Linked DNA regions of Homo sapiens. The protein of the gene in region 2 interacts with the protein of the main gene of each other region in a pairwise test. Each region holds a gene or a part of one and is shown on either strand. Other genes may lie near its edges.

Region 1 (4,487 bases), on a different chromosome or scaffold from region 2:
ACCTGAGGCCTCAGTTTCCCTAACACAGAGATCTCTGACTTGGCAGTAGGAAGCCAGGCCCTGCTTGGTAGTGCTCCCCTTTGGGCACTGTGAACCCCTGGAAGCCGCTGGAGGCAGCCGAGTGCCAGAGACTGGCGGGAGGGAGGTGTGGAGTCTGTTGGTCTGTTCAGGCATCCGTTATAGGGCCATGCCACACACATGGGTGGGAGTGTTGCCGGTCCCTTTCAAGACCTCGAGTCCCTGCCTCCCAGTGCCGGACCCGTGCTGAGCCTTCTCGGAGGGAATGAGGGGGGCCGGGGAGCAGCACCTGGAGGAAGGAAGAGACGCCAGGGGCGGGGCTCAGAGGGCCTTTGTCTGGCGGGGTCTCTGCCCCTCCCTCCCGTTGCCATGGTTTCTGTGTGTGCCGAGTCTCTGCAGGCTGGGGGCTTCCCAGGGACGGGCTGGTGGGTGGGACACCTTCCCCAGTCGCCCCTGGCTGAGGCTGCTTTTCTGAAACAAAACGCTCCCCAGTGCTGCCCAGCCCCCACTTCCTTCCACAGTGTCTCCGGCTGCCGGGCGCCCCCTGGTGGTGGCGGGGCATGGGTCCCTAGGACTGCAGGGGACGTGGGGGTGCACGGGATCTGAGAACCACAGGCTGAGCTGGAGATGTGGCACCTTCCTGGGATAAGAGAAGGAGGTGGTGTCCGGGCTGCCTTTGTGGTGGGCTCAGGGCTACCCCCACCTGCCCCACCATATCCCACTGGGATAGGCTGGGGAGTTGTGGCAGTGTGGGCGGGCCTGGTGTTGTGGGTTTGAGCTGGGCCGCTGCCCAAGTCTACCCTGTGGTCCCAGCCGCTGCTGCTTCTGAGAATCTCTGCCCTCGGGCCTGCCACGTCAGCTGGCTGCTCTTCCTGGCCCCACGTGTTCCCACGGAGCCCACCAGTATGGGGGTTCTCTCCAGGGAGGTGTGCCTGGCTTTCTGGGTGTGTGCAGCCAGTGAGCAATGTCAGCAGTGAGGCTCCTGGGCAGGAAGGAGGCCCCAGCTGTGTAGGAGTGCCGGGTTATACTGAAGGGAAGTGACGACACAGCGGAAAGCCAACAGAGGAGCCAGTAGCTCTGACTCCTGTCCCAGGTTATGCTGAGTCCCAGCAGGGAACCACCACAGCTCTGAATCAGCCTGTTAGCCGCTGTCCATTGCTCTTCATCTGCTCTTTATCTGAAAATCTTCAGAAGCTTTCCTTCAAATGAGATGACCACAGCAGTCTTCTCTGCAGGTTGCAGGAAATGAGAGGTTTGGGGAAATCTGTACTCTTTCAAAGGGTAGATAAATAGTGATAACTTTTACCTGAATGCTCACATGTGCCCCACACTGTGAGAAGAGCTTTGCATTTAATCCTTACCCATCTCTCAGAAGGAGACAGCGTTGTCCCATTTCACAGATGAGGTGCCAGAGAAAGGGCAGGAAAGGAGCTGAAGCTCTTGAGGATCTCAGGAAGGATCAGAGTGGACATCAGGGCTGTGGCAAGTCTGGACCTCCTTCTGGGAGAGGATCTGAAAATGGGAGGCAGGCTGGCTGGCTGCTTGAGGCTTGACAGCTCTGCCCAGGGGAAACTGAAGCCAGAAAGGATAGTAGCAAGTCCCAGCCTCCCAGCAGATCAAAGCCTATTAAGGAGTTAGAGGGTCCAAGATGAACAGATGCTGTGACTTGAATGCTGGGGCCTGGACTAAGCATCAAGTGACAAGACCTGTGGGCCTGTCTCTCCTGCTGCAGGGGCCCTGCTGGTCTTGTTCACGCAGGTGGAGTGGTACTGTCTCCCTTCTCTCATCGGTTCCCTCCTCTGGGGCTCAGCACTCCCAAAGTGGAAGCAGATGTTCTAGTGCAGAGCAGCTGCCACCACCCAGCACATCACTATGATTACTGCCTACCTGCTGTGGGCCCTAACTGCGCCACAGGGCAAAGGCTGCAGAGGTTTCTTCCTTGGTGGGAAGAGGTGTGACTCAGTGGGAATGCCAAGGCCACCCCAGGGAACCTCTGCAGGCCTCTCTGGTCTTACCCAGCTGGGGACAGAGCACTTGGTGGGGCCCTCTGCGGGCAGGAGGGGCTGATTCATGCCACCTTCTATTGCCTCAGTTCCCCTACCCAGCATCTTTGCAGAAATCTGGACTCAGGCTGGACGCGGTGGCTCACGCCTGTAATCCCAGCACTTTGGGAGGCCAAAGCAGGTGGATCACTTGAGGTCAGGAGTTCGAGACCAGCCTGGCCAACATGGTGAAACCCTGTCTCTACTAAAAATACAAAAATTAGCCGGGCGTGGTGGCACATGCCTGTAGTCCCAGCTACTGGGGAGGCTGAGGCAGGAGAATTGCTTGAACCGGGAGGCAGAGGTTGAACCGGGAGGCAAAGGTTGCAGTGAGCCAAGATCATGCTATTGCACTCCAGCCTGAGCAACAGAGCGAGACTGTGTTTCAAAAAAAAAATCTGGACTCAGCCACCCCTCTGAGAGGCAGGTGCGAGGGGAGCTGGGTGTGTGCAAAACTCACAGATAAGCCTCTTGCCAGCTTATCTGGTAGGGGGCATCCCTCAGGTCCTGATGGAAAGAGGACCCAGCCAGAGATGGGGAGAGTGAAGCTACTACCCCACAGCTGCCAGGGCACTTAGCCTGTGGGCTGCCCGAGAGCTCTTCACCCCACCCATTCCACCCAGATGCCATCCTGGGGCTCCACCCACCTCTGCTCCTGTCCCCCTTCTCTGCTGGAGCTGCTCCTGGGCTGTGCCCCTGCCTCTGTCCCGTTGTTCCCCCTGCTTCCTGCCTGGCTGCCAGCACCACACCCTTGTCCTGCCACTCACTACTTCCCGCCTGAGTCACAGCTGCTGGAAAGACAAAGAGACCAGCCTGAGTCTAGGGATAGGGGCTCCATGACCTTGATTTGCTTACCTGTCAAGTGGAACTCTTTTTTCAGTGACCCCTGCTTGGGATAGAGAATGTTCTCTTAACATTTAAGAGGCCTTAGGAGGGGAAAATGAAACTTGAAGGGGACAGGGAAGTGGGCCCTCCCTGGCTGGGGCAGGGAGCAGATATCCTGGCTCCTAGTGTGACTGGCTCTGTGCTGCCTACCTCATGTCTACCAGGTCTAGCTGCTGCTAGGAAAATCAGATGCAAAGCAAGTTTGCACCCTCGTCCCTGGGCAGGGTCACGAAGCGGCCCACATCACCTACTAAGAGTGGGCAAAAGGCCAGACCCCCTCTTCACTCTCAGTGGCCAGATAGGGAAACTGATGCCTCAAGTGGGCAGGAGTCCCGAAGTCACACAAGATGGGGAAGCTTTCACCCTAGACCTCAGGTCCCCCATGCCCTGGGTAGCTTCCCTGCTGAGTCTGAGCTCGCCTGGCTCGGGACTGCATGGGGACCCATGACTTCGCATCCTTGGCCTCTGCTCCTGCAGTTCCCCCCATCCTGGCTGTGACTGGCTCCTGGTTCTTCCTCCTGCTCTGGAGGAGCCAGTGGGGAAGACAGTCAGGTAGCCACTGCTGCCCTCCCTGCCCCAGTGGGTGCTTTGAGCCCCAGGGGGATGGGCCTTAAGTGTTCAGGCATCGCTGTGAGGCTTTCCTGGGACCTTTCCCCATGTCCTCATTGGCAGGTGGAGGAGTGTTGGTATGCAGATCCTGGCTGCCCCTTTGCCATGCACAGCCCAATGGGGAGGGAGTGGTGCTGGTATATATCCCGGTACACACCCCAGTGAAGATACTGGGCCCGGCCCCTGTAGTGCCCAGGGGCTAAAGCAATAGAGGGGATTGCTGCCCCAGCCACAGCGCCCCAGCCTTCCCAGGGCCTGCACATTTGTATGTCCACAAGATTGTGCAACCATCACTGCTATCTAATTCCAGAACATAATCACCACCCTCAAAAATAAACTTCATACCCAACTAGCTGTCACTCCCCATCTCCCCAGATCCCCTCCCCTCATCCTGGAAAGCAGGCCTGGGACAGTCAGAAGCTCAGTGATTGCAGGCGCCTGATGGCATTTGTGAGGAGGGCTCAGGCCTTTCCCCTCAGGGTGGTCTCTGGCGTAGGGGGCTGAAGGTGGGCAGGGGCCTTGGCAAGGCCTGCCACCATGTCCCAATGCCTGCTGCCGCTTGTTGAGCACTGCAGACATGGCCCAGAGTCTGCCTGGGGAGCTAGGGAGTGAACCCAGTGCCAGGTGGACTGTGTGGCTCCGCTGCAGTACCAGGTACTTAGGACAGCTCTAGGAGGGACTGCACGGTGGGCAAGTGTGCTCCCTGCAGAGGGGACTCTAACCCTGTGACCTCAGCCTCCCTGGACCTCAGTTCCTTCACTGGTTAGATTGGGGTGAGAATGGAACCTACCTCCCAGGATTGCTGTGGAGATGGCAGTTGGTGGGTGTCATTGATGTAGAGCAGCATCTGGCACATGGTGGGCGCTGTTTTCATATAGCTTTGCTGTCGATATTGCCGATGTTATTGTTACTGCTTGTGTTCGTTTGTGTGTT
Region 2 (4,104 bases):
ATGCAATATCACTGGTGTCCTTGTAAGATAGTTATATGTCTGCCTGGTTCTGTGTAGGTGGTTGGGGGGGTGGGGAAATGGGTATATGAAGACTGGGACACAGAGGGAGAATGCCATGTGACCACGGAGGCAGGGAGTGAAGAGCTGCAGTGACAAGCCAAGGACATCAAGGACGGCAGGCCACTGCCAAAAGCCAGGGAGGGGCAAGGAGGGCTCCTGAGACCTGGTTTTCAGAGGGAGCACAGCTCTGCCAACACCTTCATTTCAGGCTGTGGCCTCTGGAACGTTGGCTCAATAAATTTGTTAAAAAAAAATTTTAAAGGCTCAGCATGGTGGCTCATGCCTGTAATCCCAGCACTTTGGGAGGCCCAGGCAGGAGGATCACATGAACCCAGGAGTTTGAGACTAGCCTGGGCAAAATAGTGAGACCTCATCTCTATATAAAAATATATAACAAAAGTCAACTTATGTGTTTTAAGCCATCTGGTCTATGACACTTTGTTCTGGCAGGCCTAGGAAAGGGATACACGTACTGAGGAGGGGGACACTTCATTGGCATAGAGGGAGAGAGTGTGAACTTGGCCTTTTGTGGAACAGAGGAGGCTCGGGCAGAGGTGGTGATAGTGCAGCCCATTCATTCTGAGATGAAACTTCCACTGGTTTCCGTAAAGGCGTCTTGGGGAGGGAAGGGAAGGGGATGGGGACCTCCCAGTGGTATCCCCTGCTTGGGCACTGAGGGAAAGCCACAGTGGCTCGGGGGAAAAGGCAGGGACGTCCTCTCCCCGCCTGCCTCTGTCCCCAGGGAGTCTCGCCTCCTGTTCCCACCTGGGGCTAGGGTGATAGAGGAGAGGAGATAGCTCAACCTGGCATTTAGGTGGTGTGGGAACAGGAGACCCCAGACTTTCTTGTTTTGGGGTCTGGGGCAGGCAACCAGGCTCCAGGGACAGTGAGTTGAAGGAAGGGTGGCTGGGAGACCCCTTGACTTGCTGCCAAGGAGACAGAGCTGGAGCTAGGGTGGCCGGTGGTGTCTGAGGCAGGTGCAGAGAGGGAGGGAGGGAAGGGGCCTTTGACTCCAACCTCCTTTTTCTGTACCGACTGCAGGTGGCAGCTGCCCTTTCAGGAGCCAGTGGGGGAACCTGGGTGGCTGGGTGGGGACACCTGCAAGTCCTCCCTAAGCCAGCTACCACCCTACACTGTTGGCCTCCCTTCTCCAACTGTGGGGATGCTGCTCAGGCCTTTTGTGACATCACACCTGAGAGTCCCTGGGGTCCAGTCATTGCTGCTGGGCACAGCGAGGTCCAAGCTCAGGTCGCCCTGCCCCCTACCCACCATGCCAGATCCAGCATCGTTGTGGGCAAACAATTATCTGGATGATCTTTATGGGGCTTAAGCTTGGGTGGGAGCAGATGGGGCATGAGCTGGGGATTTGGGGATGGGGGGAATCCACACCCCCACGTCCTGGACGTTTAAAAGGCCCTCTCTGGCACTGGGCCGGGGCAGAGGCCAGCAGAAAAGTGACTGGAGTCCAGGGACATGATGGATCAGGAGGAGAAGACGGAGGAAGGCTCAGGCCCCTGTGCCGAGGTGAGAGGGCCCTGCCCCCACCCCACCCCCAGCTCAAGGTCTCAGAGCCCATGATTGACAAGACTAGTTTGTAGGGCACCTAATTAACGAGTGAGTCTCCTAGGACCCCCTGACCCAGTTGTGGCTGTAGAAAGGGGCTGGTGGGCTTGGGGGTCTGAGTGCCAGGCCCCAGGGCAGAGGGCAGGGCTCTCCGTGTGGACCCCTATTGATGGGAGATGCTGGGACCTGGGGGTAGCTCCTGGGCCATGTTTCCCTGATTCGTGTCCCAGCTCCCAGGCCACACTCATCAGGCCCCAATCTAGGACGGCGGGACACGCATCGGAGCCTGTCCCTTGAAGCGGTACCACGTGAAGTGGCACTGCTGGCCAGGGCCCCTGGGGCGGGGGCCGGGATTGGGAAGGAGACTCATGTCTCATTCAGAACAGCTCTGCAGAGAGGATCGGCGGGGACCATGGTGAGAGCTGAGGAAGTGGGGACGGCAGGCCCCGGGGTCAGGGTGTGAGCAAGCTGGCTAGGAAGTTTGGGGAGGGGCCCCCAAGCTGAAGGGCCAACCAGACTGAGCGAGTCTGTCCCCAGGCGGGCTCCCCAGACCAGGAGGGCTTCTTCAATCTGCTGAGCCACGTGCAGGGCGACCGGATGGAGGGACAGCGCTGTTCACTGCAAGCCGGGCCGGGCCAGACCACCAAGAGCCGTGAGCATGGGCACGGGGGTGCTGTCCATGGGGCGTGAACGGGGTGGGAGTGCAGGGCAAGTGGTCATCTGGAGGGCCTGGGGGCACGGGATGTGGGAGGTGGTTGTGCACCCTGAAGCATCTGTGTGGGGGTGAAGGGGTAGGGTTGGGGGCCCCCACTCCGGCTGTGTCCTCCCAAGTCTGTGAACGTCCACGCAGAGAGCGACCCCACCCCCGAGATGGACAGCCTCATGGACATGCTGGCCAGTACCCAGGGCCGCCGCATGGATGACCAACGTGTGACAGTCAGCAGCCTGCCCGGCTTCCAGCCCGTGGGGTCCAAGGTAGGTGATGTTCTGGCGATGTCGAGGAGAAACCCGCCAGGCAGTGCTCTCCGATCCTGCCCTCCACCCCAGCCAGGAGGGAACAGGGCCTGCCCCATCTCTGTCCATCCGCTGCCCTGACTTCAGATGGGAGGACCAAGGCCCAGGCAGTGGCTAGAGGGGCCCAAGGTTATACAGGGGCCATGCTAGTGTAAGACCCATGGCTGGAACTTGTGGCTCCTGCCCCCAAGTCTGAAGGTTCTGGGGAGGCCAAAGGGAGAAAATAGGACCCCTTCCTAGGAAAGTATCCCAGGGAGGAAGTCACGTAAGCTCACACATAGGATATATACATCTGTATACTCACATCTGTTGACTTCACACATACACGAAGCTTGGGTTCTGATCAAGATCCCAGCGAGGGCCCCAAGACCTGCCACCTCACACTCAAATGCCACCCTAAATGGCAGATATTGAGGGTAAACATAGACCAGTGCTCACAATGAGGTGGGACACGGTGGCTACCTGCACCCTCTCTCCATTGTTCGCCACCTGTGGCCGGCACTGCCCTTGAGCCCTCCCCCTGGCTGACCCCTCTTCATCCACAGGACGGAGCACAGAAACGAGCTGGGACCCTCAGTCCCCAACCCCTGCTCACCCCTCAGGACCCGACCGCTCTCGGCTTCCGTCGGAACAGCAGCCCCCAGCCCCCGACACAAGCCCCCTGAGGGCCTGAGGCATCCTGGGTCTCACTCGGCCCCCAAAAACTGATAAAAGAATAAAACACTTAAATGAATAACAAGGAACTGAGTATATGTATATTTCATCAGGGGAGGGGCTAGGACTCCCACTTGGAGGCCTCAGGAGTTCTGCTGGGCGTCGCGAAGGAGCTTCTCCTCCCGCCGCTTCCGTAACCTCTCTTTGAATTCCTCTATCTCTTGAAGCTAGGGGTGGAGAAGCGGGTGGGACAGGAAGGGGGGAGGGGCACACACCTCAGAGCCGGGACCACCCCCCCCCGCCCACCTCTCCCACCACCCTGCCCCAGACCACGGCTTCAGGGTTCAGTGTCTTCACTGGAAGCCCCCTGCCAATTACAAAGGGGTCCGCGTGGGATCCGCTTCACTCTTCCAGGAGAAGGCAATAAGGAAACCATCTACTCCTCTGCTCTCGGTTCCTTACTCATGGCTGAGAGTAAAATGTTTCTTTTTGAGACAAAGTCTCACTCTATTGCCCAGGCTGGAGTGCAGTGGCGTGATCTTGGGCTCACTGCAACCTCCACCTCCTGGGTTCAAGTGATTCTTCTCCCTCAGCCTCCCAAGCAGCTGGAATTATAGGCGCCTGCCACCATGCCTGGCTAAGTTTTGTATTTCTGTAGACATGGGGTTTCGCCATGTTGGCCAGGCTGGTTTTGAACTCCTGACCTCAAGTGATCTACCCACCTCAGCCTCCCATGCCCTGGGATTACAAGCATGAGCCACTGCGCCTGGCCTAAAATTTTCATCTAAAACCCATCCCGGATACAAGAATCCA
Region 3 (5,076 bases), on a different chromosome or scaffold from region 2:
GGCAATATTTGTAAAAATCAAAAGTAATGCAAAAAATTGATAATGAACAAAATATCACAATTTTGGAGAGGGGATCCAATTATAGACTCAGGATTGGCAGGGTTGGGTGGGGGGCTCTCTGTGGGTTTGCCTTTTCTGAGCTGAATTCCAGATTCCTGGAGTAGGTCATGAGCCTTGCGTCACTTTCCCCCTTCTTTGGGCTCTTACAAAGCTGATCTTTCTTGCCTCCTTCCTCCCCTTCAGTTAAATTCCAAAGGAGGATGCAAGCATTGCGGCAATAAAGATTTCCATGCTGAACAGTGAGTTTGTCTGGAATCACAGGGGGATGAGTGAGAGTCAGCTCACTGGGCCCTGCCTCATCTGCTGCTGGTGCTCCTGAGGGGACCCTTAGGGAAGCCCAGGGCCCCTGCGGATGGGAACCTCCCTCCACCAAAGTCTGACCCTGAAGCATGCAGGCCGTTCAGCCGAGGGTGTCCCTGTACTCCTGGGTGGCCAGCTGCTTAGTGTGAATGGTCTCTCTGCATTGCAGGGCCATCGGCCACTCGCCAAAAAGAGAGCTGGTGCATTTGGGTTTTGCTGAGACTCGGAATGCTGGAAGATTCTGCCTGAGCCCAGCAGGCTCTTGGCTTTGCTATCCCTTCCCAATGCCCTTGGCTGTCAGTTCTCTGGAAAGTGGCAGAGAGGAAGGAGCCACAGTGCTGCGTGCCGCCACCAAGGGGAAAGCTCTTCAACCAGGTTCAGAGCCAAGTCGCTGAGAGTTGCTTCTCATCCTTAGCACATTTCCTACCAGGGGCAGGATGAGTTAATTTTCGGGATGGGGATCTAACTGGCTGGCGGTTTAAAGGGCCCTTCTATTTAGCAGCCATGAGGGCTGCTAGAGTTCCTATCTCCCATTGAAGAAGGGGCTTCTTCAAGCAGACAGACCAAACATCATTTCAAAATGAGGACTGCATTTGAAATCTACTGAAGGGGGTGATACCGGGGGCCTGAAGCCTGGGGTTTGAGCTCACTTCTAGGGTGACCAATTCTTCTGTTTGCCTGGGACTGTGGGGTTTCCTACGACAGGATTTTCAGTGCTAAAACTGGAAAAGTCCTGGGCAAATGGAGATGAGCTGCTCACTCTAGTTTGACCCCATTCTTTCTGTGTTCTCACCAACTTTCAGTCTTTCATTTTGCAGATTGAGAGAATCAAGGTACTAATAAAACCTGCTGTCCCCATCTCCCAAACCCGTGGGACTCAAAAGAGCTGACGTCAGTATCCCATGGCACCTTAAGCCTCCCCATCAGGGCACATCCCACTGCTGACACACCTCTGCAGGCCTCTTCTTCCTCTCAGTTTGAGCTTTCTTGGGTGAGACCCCTTTATTCATCTCAGAGCATTCCTGGGCTTGGCTAAGAGCAGAAACTCGGGAAAGCTGTGCTTATAAAGCAAAGCACAAAGCATTCCCACCTGTTGGTTGGTGTCCTTCTTTTCTGTCCTGCCCTGGTTAGCCCCATGGGAAGGTCCTCTACAGGCTCCGACAGACAGGCGTGCCCCTGAGGGCGGCTGTCAGGAGGAAAACAGGGCAGCACGGGCAGGAGGCTTGGTCACTGCTTTGTTCTGAACGAGGCCGGGACAAGGAACCAGACAAAAGGTGGACAGGTATAGTGAGCAACCAGGGAGGGCCTGGTGGGGAGGTGAGGAAGCAGCAGGTCCCCACCCTGGGGAAGAGAAGGGCTTTAGCTGGAATCTTAACAAATAGGCCAATCTCATCCTCCAGCCTCTGGGACTCCAGCACGGACTCCCTTGGCTGCCTGCCTCCCTGACTCTCTCAGAGGCTGCCCATCCCTTGCAGCTCCTTGCGGGGCTGCCTTCCTGGGGGGTCAGCCAGATCTCAGCATGCTGAGTTGTCTGTCCCCTTGGCCTGGACATGGCCCAGCTCCGCAGGGTGATATCTGGTGGGCAGTCTGCCCCAAACCTCAGCCCTCCATCTCCCCCTCACCCCTTGATTCTCCCATCCCAGCCGCAGGCCTGCTTCTCTGCCTCTAGGCTCCTGGACACATAGGGTCTTGGCTTTGGGTGGCCACCCAGGGTCCCAGCTTCAGTCTTAGCTCTCAGAGCCTTAACCTCAGCTGAACTTCCCTGGTAAGCGAGCCCTGTGGCTCTAGGACCACTTGGGGCTGGCCAAAGCATGGTGGGGAGGAGGATGACTCAATGGCAGCCTGATTCAGGAAAGCCCCTCACCAGCCCTCGCCAGTCTGCACCCAGAGGATCCATTTCACGTGTCCTCCAAATCCTGGCTGATCCTGTTTCATTCTCTTGCTGGACACCCTTTCTGGGGCCCAGGAGTGCTGGGACACAGACATGGTCCCCATCACCAGAGAATCCTAGAACTCTCAGTGGAAGAAACCCCAAAGGTAACTGGTCCAGTCTCCTGCATTTGGATGGACTAGACAGAAATTCATGCTCAGAGCACCTAGGCACAGAGAGGGTGAGTAACTTCCCCAGGGTCACACAGTAAAGGAATGATCAGCTGCTCCTGAGCCACCTACCTGAACTCTCCTTTCTCCGCCTGGATGATTTCTTCTCTGTCTCATTGGCAGTGCTCCCAAGCACCCCGTAGTCATCGCCTGGGCCTCCTGTGGTGTCCACCAGGCCCAGGCTGCTGGTCCCCATTTCCTTGGAACCCCCTGCCGGGCCTGAGTTGGGCCTGCGCCGGGCGTCTGAGACAGGGAAGTGCCAGTTGGGGGACTGTGGGAAAGCGGGGTGCTGCTCAGTGAAGATGTGCTCCTCCTGGGGCAGGCTGTGTGGGGTGGCTGCCAGGCAGGAGGCTGAGAAGTCAGGGTACGCTGCCGTCGCTGTCGCCAGGAAGTCTGGTTTCTGGTGGAAGGAGAACGGGGTGGGCGGGTAGTGGGGTAGCCCTGAGGCCCCATTGCCTTCCGAGTGGGGGTTTCGAAGGCAGCCCCAGACAGGGGCTGGGGGCTGGAGGCTCCTCATGCAGCTGCTGGCCGCGGGATCCATCTGCTGTCCGCTGCACGCCTCGGTCCTTTCAAAGATTTGATTCTTTATACTTTTTATGTTCAAATTTTTAAAAATGCAAAAGAAAAAAAACTAAATAGGAGGGAAAAATGTTCAACAGAAAATTTACCCCAGGAACCAAAAAAAAAAAAAAACCCAAAACTAAAGTCTCTCCTTAAAGTACACACACATGTGGCCAGCTACTCCTATGTGTGTGCACACACCTATGTCGGGCTTGCTCCTGCCCCTCCAATGCACCAGCCTACCTACTGGGATCCCCTGTATGTGTATTTGTCGCCAATGACACTAAACATTTTCACTGTCCCAACCCAGACGCACCAGCTGACGAGGAGTTCGTCCTGGAGCCCAGAGCAAATGCCTGCAGAGGGCTGGACCAGGGCTGCTGGGACACACTTTTAAATCCTGCGGTGGGGAGAGAGTGACAAATTTCTGAAGTGAAATGTGAGAGAGGAGAGGGAGGGGTTAACCCACACACACAAGATCCCCTCCAACCAAAACCCTAGCAGGCAACTATTAATCATCAGAAACCTTATATGCACATCTAATGGGATTTGCAGATGGAGACTTTTAAAGAAACATTGTCTGTATTTTTTTTTTAAGGAAAGAGAGCAGCACACACACACATACACACACACCGTCTTTAATGTGCCTCCTGTAACACTATGAAGTTATTTTTATTGCACTGTTAACAAAATTCCCCAAGTCTTGGATTTAGAAAAAGCCTTAAGTCAGATCCAGAATCCATCAAATGCCAAATTCCAGGGAGTGAAGTGAGGAATAAGAGCAAGAGACAAGCTTGGTGATTGCATTTGATTTAAAGGCCCTTCTACTGCTGCCTGCGAAAAAGGAAGGTGGATTAAAAGAAATCTTTTTTGCAAGTCTCAGCGGCCCACTGTGGTCTGCAGTACAAAGAAAGGCACACTCTAGAAAAAAAGAATTTCTCTCTGCCCAGAGTGACATTCTCACTTTCTCAGTAACTTAAAAAAACAATCAGATTCTTCCTTCCGCTCTTTAACCTCCAACATACATGCCAATTAGCCACACTCTTCTCTAGAGAGGTTTCAAGTCATTTTTCTTCACAGCAATGGCAAGGCTCTTAAATAAGGTCCTTGAAGTTTCTTCGGGTCTCCTCCCACCTGCTCCCTGCCCCCTTCACCTCCACCCACCTGCTTCCCTTTCTCATCCCCCAGAGGCGGAGGCTTCCGAGGAATTTGGGGTAGGGAAATAGGAATCAGGGGCTCCTCATTCCCCAAAGGAGCCTCTTTGGCAAGCAGGCACGTGGGTCTCCGGGCTGGTGCACATCACAGGGCAGCCAGCCCAAGTGCCATCTTGATGCCCAGTCTTCCTCATGGCTGCGCCCTGCTGGTCTCTCAGAGGGTTAATGCAATTTCTTGGAGGACGACATTCCTAACACCCAGGGGCCAGAACTCCTTCCCCACTGGTTATTCCCATGGCCCAGAGCAGCAGGATGGGGGCAGAAACAGGCATGGACCTTAACAGCAGCGTCTCTGCTGGCTGCTTCCAAAGACGGCGAGGGTTCCCTGAGGAGGGGCCCCTAGGTCTTAGCTCTGCAGCCTGGAGGTGGGGCCCTGGGGGGTGGGTGCAGGAGATGCTCCTAGGAGGAGCCGAAGGGCACCCAGGGATGTGGAATGAAGCCACGACTGGCCTTTAATCCAGAAACTCCAGTCAGATACACATCCTGGGAGCAGGAGCAGCTGTAAAAGATGGGGAGGGGTGTACATATGAAAAGATGTGCCCTCTTCTGGAACAAGCGGTCAGAGTGTTGTAGACCAGTAGAGTGGATGGGGTCATAGCTGTCAACCAGACTCATCTTTCTGCTTTGCCCAGGGCTTAGCTGTGGCACACACAATTCTCTGAGCCTCACAACTTTCCTAGGATGGGTAAGTAAGAATTATGTCTCCATTTTGCAGATGACAAAACCGAGGCTCAGATGGATGACTGGGCTGCCCAGACTCACACAGCTAAGAAATGGTGGAATCAGCACTTGGCCTCAGGTGTCCTGCTGTTCAGTTTGGAGCAGGCCAGATGCAGAGGAG
Region 4 (4,487 bases), on a different chromosome or scaffold from region 2:
TCTTTTCTTTTTTTTTTCTTTTGAGACAGAGTCTCGCTCTGTCACCCAGGCTGGATGGAGTGCAGTGCCACAATCTCAGCGCGCTGCAACCTCTGCCTCCTGGGTTCAAGCAATTCTCCCGCCTCAGCCTCCTAAGTGGCTGGGATTACAGGTGCGCACCACCATGCCCAGCTAATTTTTTGTATTTTTAGTAGAGATGGAGTTTCACCATGCTGGCCAGGCTGGTCTCGAACTCCTGACCTAGTGATCTGCCTGCCTTGGCCTCCCAAAGTGCTGGGATTACAGGTGTGAGATACTGCGCCTGGCCGACATTCCTTATTATGAAGACCTGCATCCCTTCTTTCCCACTCCCTTCAACAAGTCCTATTCCCCTGCCATAAAACTAAACTAAAGGTAAAAACAAAGCATGGATAGCTAAACTCTATGAGCAATCTACTTTGCCAAACGTTTTTACCTACTCTCTAACAAAAACTTAGAAGCAAATTATTAATAAGGAGCAAAAACAGTGTTTTATTTCTTCTCTTAGCTTTGGATAATTTTCTGGTACTCATAAAAGTAGTAAGAGGAAAAATTAGCACAAAAAAAAAGCCAGGGTGATGATGAAGCACAGACCCTGAGCTGGTTATATGCATTTTAAAAAATTCATTCCTAAATTAAAATCAAAGGTAATTAAATTCAGGTTACATTAACTATTCTGAGTTGAATGTGTTGATAATGGGACTTTAAAATCCTGTACCCTACTTCAATTTATTTTTAAATTTTGTTTTTGTTTTTGTTTTTTGAGACAGAGTCTCACTCTGTCGCCCAGGCTAGAGTGCAGTCATTCCACCTCAGCTGACTGCAACGTCCGCCTCCCAGGTTCAAGCGATTCTCATGCCTCAGCCTCCCAAGTAGCTGGGATTACAGGTGTGCACCACCACGCCTGGCTAATTTTTGTATTTTCAGAAAAGACGGGGCTTCACCATGTTGGCCAGGCTGGTCTGGAACTCCTGACCTCAGGTGATCTGCCCACCTCAGCCTCCCAAAGTGCTGGGATTACAAGCATGAGCCACCATGCCTGGCCTAATTTTAAATCTGAATTTAAGTTCTCTCTCCCAACTATACAAGATGGTAATATTGAGAATGAGCAGGCACGTTCTCATGAACTAATGAGAAAGTAAAGCAGTGATATGTTTAGTTCCTCAATACTCCCATGTCATTCCATTATGTTCAACTTATATTTAGTGAGTGCCTACTAGGTGTCAGGCACTGTCATCTCTTTATTAAACATTAACTCTCTGGCCATGCATTTAATAGAGAATTTGACCTACTCCAGTCCTTGAAAGGGTCACCTTATAAAACTCATGATACCCCATCAACTCTGCTATACCCAACCATACATGACTGGATTGTGGTTGGCAGATGACAAGGCTGGGCCAATCTGATACTCTTTACCAGGAACCGGGAATGGGATCCTGGGAGCCTGCATCAGATAACATGAAGCACTTGAACTACCGGGTCAGGCGGTGCGTGAGCCACAGAAGATGTCAGAGTAAACAAAAGTTGAAGACTCGGGGGAGGCCATTCTGCTCTAGGAGAAATAGGGGAGAGGGTGGGGGTTGGGTATCACAGTCCATGTACATACAACCTACCTGTATTTCATTTCTTACCTATTCTTGAATGTCTAACACCTATGAAGTTGCCTACTTTGTCCTTTCAATATACCTCTCTTTTACTTGTGACTTGTATGAGTGGTGTTCCTATTCCTTATGGGCAAAAACACTTTAGCATTCTATTAAGTCCTGCAACAGACAAAAAGATGAGAAATACTTAGTCCTCCTGCCCTAAAAGACCATATGGTTAGGACCAGGTAAGTATATAAATAACCATATATAAGGCAGACTATAAGTGGCATAAAAAGTACTATGAGGTTTCAAAAATAGAGGATCATATCATATCCAATTCAGAACATCAAAACAGTTTCACCAATGGCGAGGCATGGTGACTCACACCTGTAATCCCAGCCTTTGGGAGGTCGAGGCGGGTAGATCACTTTAGGCCAGAAGTTTGAGACCAGCCTGGCCAACATGGTGAAACCCCGTCTCTACTAAAAATACAAAAAATAGCTGGGCACGGTGGTGCACACCTGTACTCTCAGCTACGCAGAAGGCTGAGGCATGAGAATTGCTCGAACCTGGGAGGCAGAGGTTGCAGTGATCCAAGATCATGCCACTACACTCCAGTCTGGGCAACAGAGTGAGACTGTCTCGGGAGGAAAGAGAACTAAATAGTAATCATAACAGACAGTAGTCTGAGATTTTTAAAATGTATTTACTAAGAAAAATAAAATATTAAAATCCTAGGTCAGTCTACCAAAAACAAGTTTTTAAAAATTTTTCTGGTCCTTAAAGTCCAAAAATCTGGAATCTAGTAATGACTGAGTCATAGGACTTCGCAACTGACTGGTTGTAAGAGATGAGAGTAACAGAGGAGTTAAAAACAACTGCAGTTTTCAGCCTAGATGAAGTTGAGAATGCTGGTACTGAAACAGAAAAGTTCCCAACAGGTGGATTTGGGGGTGAGGAGTGAAGGCAAGTTCTATACTGGATAAACTGACTTGAGGTAAGTAGCAGGATATAGTTCATTAATACACTGGGGGAAAAGCAGAAAGAGAAGCCATCTCAAGTAGAGAAAACAGATTTTTCAAAAATTCCAAGTAAAAAATTGTCCTCTAAAAAAGGAACCAAAAGACTCTTCACAATGTTTCAGTTTTTTCTTCCGCGTTTTGAACATTCCATTTTTGCACAGCTACTGATTTTCCTGCCATCTGTCTCTCTATATTGTTTTTTCCTGGTTACAGATGAGCGACTTTTAAGAATGGAAGTTAGAGGCTATAATCTCAGTCTATAATCTCAACATTTTGGGAGGCTGAGGTGGGCAAATCATTGAACCCAGAAGTTCAAGGCCAGCCTGGGCAATATGGCAAAACCCCATCTCTACAAAAAATTAGCCAACGGTGGTGGCATTAGCCTGTAGTCCAAGCTACTCAGGAGGCCGAGATGGGAGGATCGTTTGAGCCTGGGAGGCAGAGGTTGCAGTGATGTTGCAGAGGTTGCATTGAGATTGCACCACTGCACTCCAGCCTGGGCGACAGAGTAAGACTCAACAAAAAAAAAAAAGAAAAAGAATGGAAGTTAATGGAAGGACCTGATGAAACACACACAAACACACACACACACACACACACACACACACACACACGCACGCACGCACTCCTTTCCCCAGGAGAAAGTATGCTGTAGAAGAAACCAGGGAAGGAAGAGAGACAGGATAGGAAAAAAGGAAGTATCTGCAGAGGCCTAACAACTCCCTTTTCCTTCCCAAGCTAGAGGATGCAGAAGCTCAGCACCACGGGGGAGGAACAGCATAGTGCTTCAGGTTTTACTAACCATCTCTAAAAGATCTCTAGACTACGAATCAATTTTATTAGAGACAACTGCCTAAAAACTAAAAGACTTTTTTGTAATAATGCATATAAGTTTAGTATGCTAAAAATTATTTTTTAAAGAAACGTAGTAGCAGCGCTTATTAGAACCTTACATGCCCTGTGAAATCTAGTATTAAGCACCCTACTCTATGGCCATCAGTGTACTACAGGAATAGCGTAGTCAGGGAAAATTACATTATTTTAATTCCTGAAAAGGGCCGTATTTTCAGACTGCAAAAGTGATTAATGCTTCTACATGTGGCTTGTCAATTATCCCAGCACCATTTGTGGAACAGGGTGTCCTTTCGCCACTTCACATTTTTGTTTCTTTGTCGAAGATTAGTTGACTGGAAGTTATTTGGCTTTATTTCTGGGCTCTCTATTCTGTTCCATTAGTCTATATGCCTGTTTTTACACCAGTACCATGATGTTTTGGTGATTATGGCCTTACAGTATAGTTCGAAGTCAGGTAATCTAATGCCTCTAGGTTTGTTCTTTTTGCTTAGTCTTGCTTTGGCTATACGGGCTCTTTTTTGGGTCCACATGAATTTTAGGATTGTTTTTTCTAGTTCTGTGAAGAATGATGGTGGTACTTTAATGGGAATTGCATTGAATTTGTAGATATGCTTTTGGCAGTATGGTCATTTTCACAATATTGATTCTACCCATCCATGAGCATGGGACGTGTTTCCATTTGTTTGTATCATCTATGATTTCTGTCAGCCGTGTTTTGTAGTTTTCCTTGTAGAGGTGTTTCACCTTCTTGGTCAAGTATATTCCTAAGTATTGTTTGTTTGTTTGTTTTTTGTTTGCAGCTACTGTAAAAGGTTGAGTTCTTGATTTGATTCTCAGCTTGGTTGCTGTTGGTGTATAGGGCTACTGACTTAAATCTAAGACCCAAAACCATAAAAATTCTAGAAGATAACATTGGAAAAACCCTTCTAGCCATTGGCTTAGGCAAAGACTTCACAACCAAGAACCCAAAAGCAAATGCAAAGACAAAAATAAAAATAAATAAATG

The links.
Region 1: the proteins of PCP2 (region 2) and GNAI2 interact in binary tests that used the Homo sapiens proteins (3 or more experiments, as listed by UniProt).
Region 3: the proteins of PCP2 (region 2) and MEOX1 interact in binary tests that used the Homo sapiens proteins (3 or more experiments, as listed by UniProt).
Region 4: the proteins of PCP2 (region 2) and GNAI3 interact in binary tests that used the Homo sapiens proteins (3 or more experiments, as listed by UniProt).

The regions. Positions count from the first base shown.
Region 1 is NC_000003.12:50,245,806-50,250,292, forward strand, and holds part of GNAI2 (guanine nucleotide-binding protein G(i) subunit alpha-2), read left to right. Parts: intron 1-1,104; exon of another isoform or gene 1,105-1,263; coding exon of another isoform or gene 1,264-1,270; intron 1,271-4,487. UniProt on the Homo sapiens protein: Guanine nucleotide-binding proteins (G proteins) are involved as modulators or transducers in various transmembrane signaling systems.
Region 2 is NC_000019.10:7,630,887-7,634,990, reverse strand, and holds PCP2 (Purkinje cell protein 2 homolog), read left to right. Parts: upstream 1-1,271; 5' UTR 1,272-1,370; coding exon of another isoform or gene 1,371-1,533; coding exon 1,534-1,584; intron 1,585-1,853; coding exon of another isoform or gene 1,854-2,038; intron 2,039-2,160; coding exon 2,161-2,275; intron 2,276-2,473; coding exon 2,474-2,598; intron 2,599-3,034; exon of another isoform or gene 3,035-3,182; coding exon 3,183-3,302; 3' UTR 3,303-3,376; downstream 3,377-4,104. Other genes in the region: protein PET100 homolog, mitochondrial, read right to left, coding at 3,435-3,518. UniProt on the Homo sapiens protein: May function as a cell-type specific modulator for G protein-mediated cell signaling.
Region 3 is NC_000017.11:43,658,534-43,663,609, forward strand, and holds the start of MEOX1 (homeobox protein MOX-1), read right to left. Parts: upstream 3,390-5,076; 5' UTR 3,002-3,389; coding exon 2,533-3,001; intron 1-2,532. UniProt on the Homo sapiens protein: Mesodermal transcription factor that plays a key role in somitogenesis and is specifically required for sclerotome development. Required for maintenance of the sclerotome polarity and formation of the cranio-cervical joints.
Region 4 is NC_000001.11:109,554,717-109,559,203, reverse strand, and holds part of GNAI3 (guanine nucleotide-binding protein G(i) subunit alpha-3), read right to left. Parts: intron 1-4,487. UniProt on the Homo sapiens protein: Heterotrimeric guanine nucleotide-binding proteins (G proteins) function as transducers downstream of G protein-coupled receptors (GPCRs) in numerous signaling cascades.